Linked DNA regions of Homo sapiens: region 1 is linked to region 2. Evidence: fine-mapped expression QTL. A gene starts in region 2. The other region holds a variant in brackets. All regions are shown on one strand. Distances are from middle to middle. Region 1 overlaps ANO2 (anoctamin 2). Region 2 holds the start of ANO2 (anoctamin 2).

Region 1 (5,229 bases), 21 kb before region 2:
CACAGGCACCATGGCCCACACACGCTCACCTCCTTGCAGATCTGCACCTCTGCCTGCAGATACACTATATATTTAAACACAGAATACTCACAGGCAGGTTCTCTGGATCCATTGGAACAAAGACCAATTTCTAGTCACCAGACCCGACCCCTACCCTCCCACCCACGGGAATTCACCAGGCACTATTCACAGCCCCACATCCTCCTCTCCAGCCACTGGTGAGGGCCCTTTCAAAGACAGCAGCAGGGAACTGACTTCTGCTGTCTTCCACTCCAGAGGTGGGGAGGTGGAAAGAAGAGGAGGAGAGAGAACACGATGAAGCAGGGGAGGGACCGGCCTCTCCCCGTGGGTGTTTCCCTGTTTATTACTGGTTTGAAACCCAGCTGCCTCTGCAGCCACCTGAGAGGTCACCTGGGCAACCAGATGAAGCTCCAGGCACAAGGGAGAGACTCAGAGCCACCATAGCAGAGAAGACAGTTGCTCAGGCTTGCAGGAGGGGAACCAGGGGGCCTGCAGACCAACTGGCAGCATCGACTGGCCTCCCACGCCTCCTCCTTTCCTGACCCTCCTCTGACCAGAACAGGGCACTGGGAAAGTGTGCCTGACTTGGAGACAGAGAAGAGAAAAGGCCCTACCCAAACCTAGGTCTCTCTCTTTCACGCACACATGTGCTCCCAACTGGAGGATCCCCCAGACCAGAGGCTCCTTGGTGGCCTGCAACAGGGCTGGCCTATCCCCCCACCCCACCCCCGCCCAGTACTCACAGAGCTGCTGCGGGTGCTCTCTCCACCGCAGGGCTGGCCAGGATCTCTGTTGGAACCGCCCTGCAGACCTGGGGCCCGGGGACCTGGCATCTTGAGACACTGCTGTCCATGTTTGGGGCCCTGGCCCCCTCTGGACCCTGCCTGAGGGCTCAGCCGGCGTGGGGAGCCAGGGAGCAGGGGTATATCTGTGAGAGGGAAAGACAAGGGAGGCAAAACAGCCTCAGGTGAAGGAAATCCAAGACACTGAGGTACTGAGTGTACTCAGACACTAGCCCTGAGAAAATGGCCCATTTTGCTTCACAGCTGCCTCCTTGGTTAGTCCCTAAAGCCCAGGTTCACACTGACCACAAGGAAGGGAGCATGGAAAAGGAAGTGCGGCCCCCCGACTGCATACACACACGCACACACACATACACACACATGCACGCACACACACCCACATACACACACACATGCACACATACACACACACACGCACACACATACACACACATGCACGCACACACACCCACATACACACACATGCACACATACACACACGCATACACACACACGCACACACACATACACACACACGCACGCACACACACCCACATACACACACACATGCACACATACACACACGCATACACACACATACACACACACACACACACACACGCACACACACAGCGTGGAGCCACCAGCAGGAGCTCCTTCGGATCATGGCTGTCATAATCTCTCATAATTCCCAGATAAGAAAGGGGTGGCATTGAGCAAGTCAGGGTGGTGGGGGGGCACTGCCTGGAGAGACACCTTGAATTAATACCAAAGGCTTAGGCTTTGGGCCTCTCCCGTGGCAGCAGCACCAGCTGGCACCCTGGCCAGCCCCCACCTCCCTCGGGGAGAGAGCAAGGACAGACCAAGGGGGTCCTCTGAACAACTGAACAAAGGACTGTCCTCCAGTGTCCTTTCAGGGTCCTCACGCACCTGCTGCCTCTACCCAGGCCCCAGAGGTCTGCAGCCCCTTCTCGGCAGGAATGCAGGACCACTTCAGAAAAATTCCAGTGTCTCCCCTGAAGGGAAAAGTCCCCAGTAGGTGATGGAATGACTGCATGCTAGAATTGGAGGGAACTGAGAGAGTAGATAGTCCAGCTGCACTTTGTACAGACCCCACTGGAACCGCGAGTTGCCAAGGTCTCAGCGCAGGTCAGACTCAATCTATTCTCTCCTCTGAGAAACACTTCCTAGAAAAGCAACACAGCCAGTGCCCAGGCTTAAACCTCAGCTCTGCCACTTGCCAGCTCTAAGACCTCTTTGTGCTTGTTCTCTAGCTGTAAAATGAGAATCTCAAACTTGCAGGATTGCAGTGAGAATGAGAATAAGATAATGCCTGCAAAGCACCCAGAGCAGTGATTAGCCTGACGGCATGTGATCAAAGGCTGTGATTAGAATCGTTAGTGTTTGCATTTTAACCTCCAAGTGAGCAGAAGTAACACCTTATGTCTCCAACTCAGCCCTAAGCACCTGCTCAGTGAATGAATGAACAAAAGCAACTCTTCCAGTCTGTTGAAACAGAACTCCCGGCCCTTTGCCAACTTGTGGAGCAGCCCCTTAGGTGCTCAGCCCTCCAGC[G/A]CAGTTTCAGGGGTCCTAGAACATTCGGTCCCTGCACTTGAGAAACATAATCTCTTTATGAAGACAGAGCTGACATGCAGGAAACACAACTGTGACCAGCAGAGGAAAGCTTTCATCATTCCTTTCTATACTGTGGGTTCTAGTCCACACTGTGGGAGACCAGAAAGACTAAGTCAAAGTCGGCTTCTGGGGTAACTGAGCCAGAGCTGGGTCCTGGAGGGTGGGTAGCTTCTGAAAGGCCAGGAGGCACGGGAGGCACTCCCTAGGGAGACAGCACAGAAGGGCAGGCGTGGGCACACCTTGTGGGAGGAAAATGAAAACTCAGGACCCCATATCACTCTGCCGAAAGGAAAATATTAAGCCGAAAGCTGAGTCAGGCAAGACGCTGCCTTTCCTTTTGTTCCTAAGCAGACAGCTACAGATAAAAGGCTAGATAGCTCCACAGGCAGCTACTCTATATTCACCTTGTCCAAAGCGCAAGATGAATACATCATTGATAATTCCCTAACTGCTCCTTTTCTCTTGCAACATGCAGATTCCCACAGCCTCCCTCTTTCCCCCACAGCCTGCTTTTCCCCGTTAAATATTGAAGCCCTCAAAATGATCTTTGGAGAAAGACACAGACCTCTCTTCCAACCACATTCTTAACGTTGGCAAAATAAACGGAATTGATTGAGGCCTGTCTCAGATATTTTTTGGTTTACATGTGATGGGGCTCAGGCTCAGGGCTCTAAAAAAGGGGCTTCCTCCCTTGTGCCCAATCTCGCCTCCTCCCACTTCCCTTGTGCCTTCCTGCATGCCTGCCCCACAAGTGCCTGAGAACAGAACTTGGAACAGAAGGACTCTACCCCAGAGAAGACCTGGAAACCTCTAGATGCATGTCTAAAAAGCCCAAGACCACTGGATACATCACTGGGGAACATGATAAAGATGATGTTCACTCAAGGGCCACCCTACCCTGGCAGCTACATTCAGATTTGCACCTGTGGCTCAGAGTAGCTCAGATTCAAGGGCAATGCAAAGCTTTGGTCCAGCTGCTGTCCAGGAACCACCATCCCCTAAAGGTGCCACCTGGAGTTTGAGGCTGACATTCAGGGCCCTCACTAGCCATCGCAGTTGCTCCCCCGGCTCGCTCTCTGACACACGGATCCGGCTGCCTGGGAACTCTGCTTCCCTTCTCTCCCTCTCCCCACAAGTGATTAGAGCACAGCACACGGTTCAGCCATCCCAGCCGTCCCAGCTCTGGAGAGGCACTCCAGGCAATAAAGACACAAGGGAGCCACCTTCAGACGTGAGAGGAAGGCCAAGGGGAACGCGAGTGACGCCTGCCCTCAGGAAGGGGAAGGGTGAGGCAGGTGAGCACACACCTTGAGAACTCCCTAAGAAGCTTAGAAGAGGTGAATGAGGTCAATTAGAAGGAAAGGCCATCGTACACAGCCCGTGGAACATGTCACCCATTTGGAAAGAATCTTTCCTTCCTTCACCGTTGCCTTGGCTCTCCTTCCACGCTGCCTTGAACAACAGATCCTTGGGTGTTCATAACTGCAATGCCGTGAGGGTGGGGGCATGGCTTACCCACGTCTGGGTTGAGGAGATGGATGTCGTAAGGCTGGGGCCTGGGCCTTTCTCCACGTTCCAGCTCTCTCCCTGGGCACTCTCATCCACTCCAGAGACCTTCATTGTCACCTATTGCTGACGACACTTAAGTTTCACTCTAACTCTTGCTCTCCTGCAGGCACCAGGTCCACACATTCCCCTGCCTGCTCAGCATCTACACTTGGATGTTTCCCAGCCCCTCAAAGTCAACATGCCCAAATCCAAACATACGATCTTCTCCAAAACAGGATTCTTTTTCAGCATTTCCTGCTCCTGCAAATGCTCCACCAAACAGTCAACGAGCTGGAAATCTAGAAGCAGCCTTGATAGCTGTTCTTCCTCATGCCCCATGTCCAATTTGGTACCGATCCTATAAACTTTACCCCTGAAATGTCTGCCAAACCCCTCTGTTCTTCACCCTTCCATGAGTCCCACCCTAGTGCCAGCTGTCAGCCTCCTTCCCCTGGAGGACGGCGATGCCCTCCTAACAGATCTCCCTGCTCCCTGTCCCTGTTCCCCACAAGGCAGCCAGGGGTCCTTACAAACATCCATCTGGCCAGGACACCCTCAAGAGCACAAACTTATGGGGCTCCCATGGCTCTCGGGCTGGGACTCTGCATTCTGCCCCGCCAGTCTCCACCCCCTCTCTCCTGCTGGCTCCCTGGGGTCCCGCCATACACCTCTGCTCTAGCACACCAGCTCCCCAGCCCAGCATCCTACATGCATTCTTCCCGCTGCCTGGACCATGCTTCCCTACACACTCTTCATCTAGTTGTGGGCCACCTACTATTTTGGTCCTTAGGGACCCAGAAAATCCAAAGCAATCCATTCTTGCTTCAAAAAGCTGCTAATCAAGGTGTAAGACTGGAATATTCAGATACTACTAAGAAAGCTAATTTCCTTCCAACCTAGACATGAGTAAGGTTCCACAAGTTGGGTTGTGCAGGATTGGGAGGAGGTGCAGGCCACGAGGACCCATGTGATGTTGCCGGAGGAAGGCCTCACCACCAGCACCCTGCCCCAAGACAAACCCTTTCTCTGAGCTTAGTTTTTACTTCGGTGATTTGGGAGAAGGTGTCATTATTATATCTTTTCCTCATAAAGTGAGTGTGATGATACAGTAAGAGAAAAGATTAACATTCCTTGGAAGTACATGAGCTATGAAAAATGCACAGGATAATTATCAAACCCTACTTCAGGACGTCCATGCTGCCTCCTTCATCCGTCTCTTCTCCACTTCATTCCAGCTGCTCTG
Region 2 (5,229 bases):
TTACTAGATGTCGGCATGGATGTGATGAAAAGGGAACACTTTAACACTGCTGCTGAGAATGTAAACTAGTACAACCACTATAGAAAAACAGTATGGAGAGTCTTTAAAGAACTAAAAGTAGAACACCATTAGATCCAGCAATCCCACTACTGGGCATCTACCTAAAGAAAATGAAGTCATTATATAAAAAAGACACATGCACATGTATGTTTATAGCAGCTCAATTCACAATTGCAAAGATAGGGAACCAACTTAAATGCCCATTAACTAAAAAGTGAATAAAGAAAATGTGGGATGTCTGTGTTTGAGTGTGTGTTTGTGTGTGTGTGTGTGTGTGTGTGTGTGTGTGTGTGTAATACTACTCGGCCATGAAAAGAAACAAAATAAGTCTTTTGCAGCAAATTGGATGGAGCTAGAGGCCATTATTGTAAGTGAAGTAACTCAGGAATGGGTAACTAAATATCATATGTTCTCATTCATAAGTGGGAGTTATGCTATGAGGATGCAAAGACATAAGAATGATATCATGGACTTTGGGGACTCAGCGGGTAAGGGTGGGAGGAGGGATAAGGGATAAAAGATTACATACTGGGTACAATGTACACTGCTCGGGTGAGGAGGCACTAAAATCTCAGAATTCACCACCAAAGAACTTACCCATGTAACCAAAAGCAAAACCCCGTACCCTAAAAACTACTGACATTTTTAAAACAATTTTTAAACAATACAGATGGATTATACCGTGTACTAGAGACAATAACACCGTCCCTAGCAGCCAAATACCTGCTATGCATGTGCTCTAGCAACGTCATACATAGGGTGGGATGGGCTTCTCTCAGCCCACAGAATGGGTAGCTTTCCAGAAAATTAGGTCTTTGTTACAGAAAATTATAGACACACTCCCCAGTAGGCCCAAATGCCTCTCACCCTGCAGCCTTGCCCCACAATGGAAGATGAAGAGATGGCACACCTGGAAACTGGACTAGAACTTGAGGTGTGTGTTTGGATCCCACCCTTACCCCTCACACAGTCTCTACAGTCAACCAGCAGAGTGGCTCTGGTACCCACATAGAGGCAACTCAGACAGCAGAAGCAGTTGCTGGAAAGGATCGAATCAGGTGCTTGGCTCCGGAAATGACGGGTGCACGTTAAGACACACTGAGAGGAGCAAATGAGCCCTGGATGCCCAGCAGCTGAGCCAGGGTGACAGAGAGACTGGGCAGGGGCTCTGATGCCAGGTTCCAAGGACAAAGGCTCGGCAGGTGGAGGGCCAAGAGGACCACAGTCCTCTGGAAGCACCTTCACCTTGTCTAAGATCCTCCCTCCACCTGCCACCTGCCTTTGGGCTGAGACCCGACCTTGCTCAGTGGGACCTTCTGTCCCAGACGAGGTTCCACATGGTCCCGGGGTGGTATTTCTCCACATCTGCTCACAAAGTATCAGGACTGTGACTGACACCACCTCCCAGTGCACTCAGCTCATTGTTCATGCCAAAGGAGCGGGCACCTCCCTCTTCATGCCTGTCTCAAGAATTACCAGAAACACAACAGCCGACAAAGTCCCTGTCCCAGGCAAAGTCAGTCCTGCCCAAAAGCAATAAAATAACGTCTTTCTTCTCCATACTCCACCTCAATTTGCTTTTCTTCTAAGAAAAGTCCCTCGGGAAGGTATAGCTGTGTTTCCCTGCAGCCTGGGGTGTAAATGCCTGATCTTGGAACCCTTCCTGAATGCGGTTTTGGGTAAGACACTGGAAAAAACTTCTGAAACTGAGAGGCCACTCCAGGGATGCCAAAGTCAAATTTGCTCTGTCCTCAGCGGACCGTTGCTGAGTTAAACCCAGTCCGGCTGGTTGTTTACTTATTGTTTACTTACCTTCAGATGCTGTAGGCTAAACGTCCCCAGGACTTGTAACAAGGAGAGGCAACATCACAGAGGTGGGGATTGGTAACCAATCACAGAGAAGCGGCCGCCCAAACCTCTGTTGTCCTACCTTCCCTCTCCTTGAGTTAAAAAAAAAACAAAACAAAACAAAAAACAAAAAACGTCTCGGAAATTACATAGACGTCCCTCAGAGTCCCTACCCTGGAAAAACGGGGTCAACTTCCCGCACCACCCTGCCCAGGCTCCCTTGGGGGTCCCCAATCCCGAAGGGTGGGAGTTCGGATGCCGCCTCCTTCACTCCCTCCCTCCTACCACCTGTAGGAGACCAGGACCAGGTCCAGCCGGAAAACTCACCGCGCGGCCCGGGAGTCGCCATGATGTGGACGCAGACCCCGCCGGCCCGCGGCCGCGCGCTTCTGGGCAGGCTTATGCCGCCGCGGGGCTAATTCCATCGCGGCTCAGCTCCGTCCCGGCGCGCCCGCCCCTCGCCGGCTGCCGCCTCCTCCTCCCCCATCCCTCCCGGCCGCCGGCGCCGCGCAGCCACAGCCCAGCTCTCCCCGCTGCGCCCTGGGCGCCCGGGTGCTGGGAGCGGGGCGTCGAGAATGGAGCGCGGTCCCGCGGCCGGGTTGAGTCCAGGACACACTCGGGTCCGTGGGGCTGAGGGGCGAGACAGTAAACGCTCCCTGCTCCCCCAGAGCCGGGGCAACGCCCCACAACCTGCTTCGAGTGTAAAAATTCAGTCGGATTATCTCATGAACTGTCTGGCTGATTAGTTTCCAATCCTGCCAGCAAAACCTTCTTCCCGCCGCCCCAAAGGGTCATCCACTGCCCAAGAGTTAGCCCTGGGGCGGGAGTGGGGGCGAGCCCCTGGACGGCGGATCTCCCACACCTGTCTCCATACTAGGTGGAGACCAGCTGTCCTCACCTTCCCCTAGGTTAAGCAGAACAAAAGGGAGAAGAGGCAGGTAGTAAGTGCACAAGGGACCGCAAAACAGGAGGGGCTGCCAGAGGCAGGAGGAGGGGTCCATTTTACAAGAGCTCTCCCATGAGACGCTAGGAGGGTTAAGGAAGGTTGAGGGAGTAGATGATGGAAGCTCCATCCCCAGAGGGGAAGAGGAGTGCCATCTCCCCGGGACAGTTCACGGACCTGGGCAGGGGGATGGGAGGGAAGACCTCCAAAGGGCCCTTCTGCACGATGGAATCTGCAACTCCAAGATGCACAGAAGTAAAACAAGTTCATTAATACCATGGACCCCCAAAATGAAGAAGTACTATGTTAAGGTCAAGTATGCCATTTGTGATCACTGACCTTCAGGCATGAAGATTTTCTCTCCTATATTGATAAGGTAGGCTGGTCATGATAGATCCCACTTTATAGAGAAGGAGCCTGGGGAAGCAAAGGGGAGTAAGTGACACCACAGTCGAGGGCAGAGCAGAAGGAAAACCACAAGATGTGATGTCCCAACCCAGGCCTTTATTCCATCCACTGCAAGTACTACCAGCTAATGCTTCTACAGGACTTCCTCTCCACCCAACACCCTTCTCAGTGCTTTCCCTATGGTAGTTATTTTAATCCTAACAATAAGTATATGAGGCAATCACTGCAGTGTGCCCATTTTACAGATGAGAGAACTGCAGTGTTAAATGGCAAGTAACTTGCCTCTAAGAGGATCCTAGGATTCCAAAGCAGGCAGCCTGCCCTGGAGTCTGTGGCATAACACTCTGCTATTCTGCTCCTTTCTGTCCCTAACAACCCCTTTCTCCCTGTCTACTTCCAGGGACCGTTATCATGTCTTTTCAATCCCCAAACGATTGAAAAATGGTCACCATTGCTCTTTCATTCATTCCCTTTCTTCTTTCCCTCCAGCAGTTTCTTAGTGTCTATATACTCCTTCCTTGAGACTCCCCTTAAAACATCCACTTTGGGGCACTCTGTCTTGCCTGGTCTGAGGGTGAGTAAAAAAGAGGGTCCCTGAAACCAGGTACAGATAGTGCCTTTGGAATACCTGTAAATAAAAGAAGACTGCCGAGACACCGCTCCGCACACACTAGCCCCACAAGTTTCTCTTCTTGCATCCTTTTTACCCAGCTCTCTTCCATCGTTTTGGGTTTTTTTAAAATAATCAAAACATGCAGTTTTCCGATTCAGCTTTTTTCTTGACGGTAAAATGACATATCAGTAAACATGAGAAGTTCAAGCTAGCAAGACACAGGCAGTTGGAAAATCAACCACCTATGCTGCAGTGGTAGCCTAGCCTTCCTGCTGAATTTCTCCAGAGCTGATGCCTCCAATAACACCTTGTCCCCAGCTAGAGTGTTAGGCGATCAGTCAGAAGAGTGACAGTTAATTCCCTGTCCCTGGATCTGGTTTCCTACCAAGAGAGACCTTAGAGGCTACCCAAAGTTGGGAGTGGGGTGATGGATGGAGAGACAGTAACCTTTGAATTACTGAGTAGTTACATAAAACTTCTATCCATTCTTCCTTCCTTCTGCCCCACTAAACTCCCCACCAAGCCTACTCAGCATAATCTATGCCATTTTCCTGTAATGTGGCTTCTCTTAAGGTTAAGCTCAGGCAGTAACAGAAGTGGTGGGAACTTAAGGGTGCAGCAGTCACTGGTCCCCATGTCAGCACGGGAGGAGTGTAAGCAACAGGGATGGTGTGGCTCTGATGGGGTGGCCTGGGAGTTCTTATGCAGGTGTCAAGTCACCTGGGTTCTGAACCTGGCCCTGCCACCCAGCAGTTATGACCTTTGGCAAGTCACTTGAATTCTCTGAGCTGCTTTCATCACTTGTAAAGGAGTGGAGGAGGGACAGTGGACTAGATGATGTCTAAGTCCCTTTTGATTCCATTATCCAGTACTTTCAATGAGCTGAGTCTCTCCTGTGTCAAAAGTATTTGGAATGAAAATCAATTCTTCATCAAATTCTTGTAATCCAGGACATCCCCTTCTTTCTCATGGGTATTCTCCCCAGCAAGAGTCCCCACCATCTTGCCAGCATGTACATGAAAATTCTTCCATACATTTTAAGGAAGGACCATCTCTAACTGCAAGTGACAGTACCAGTTAGTGATTTGGGGACTGGATGATGTTTGGTGTTATCTACACCACTTCCTCTTCCACTGAAGGATGTCTGGAGTATGTAGGACCTTGGCATCAAGCATAAAGCCTGATAGAAACCCAGCCGGTCCAGCCCTCACCACAAAGGAAATCTCTAATGCTCTGCTGTTAACATTAGAGTCTCTTATTCCCTACCGAAAGCCTTGATCTCCCCATTGTTATTCTCGCCACTTCTTACATGATTACAGAGCAATTTACAGTTACCTAAGGACTTGCAGGCCCTATT

What was found. PIP is the estimated chance that this variant, and not a neighbour inherited with it, causes the effect.
Region 1: its variant is fine-mapped to the expression of ANO2 in lung (TOPMed, PIP above 0.99).

The regions. Positions count from the first base shown.
Region 1 is chr12:5,921,856-5,927,084 of GRCh38, forward strand. It overlaps ANO2 (anoctamin 2), which reads right to left. Exons shown (of 25, transcript NM_001364791.2): 2 at 765-949. Among named protein-coding and RNA genes, the nearest start is that of ANO2, 21 kb to the right of the region's middle. The variant G/A (reference allele first, on the strand shown) is at 2,379.
Region 2 is chr12:5,942,961-5,948,189 of GRCh38, forward strand. ANO2 (anoctamin 2) reads right to left here and starts at 2,299. Exons shown (of 25, transcript NM_001364791.2): 1 at 2,236-2,299. The coding sequence starts at 2,257.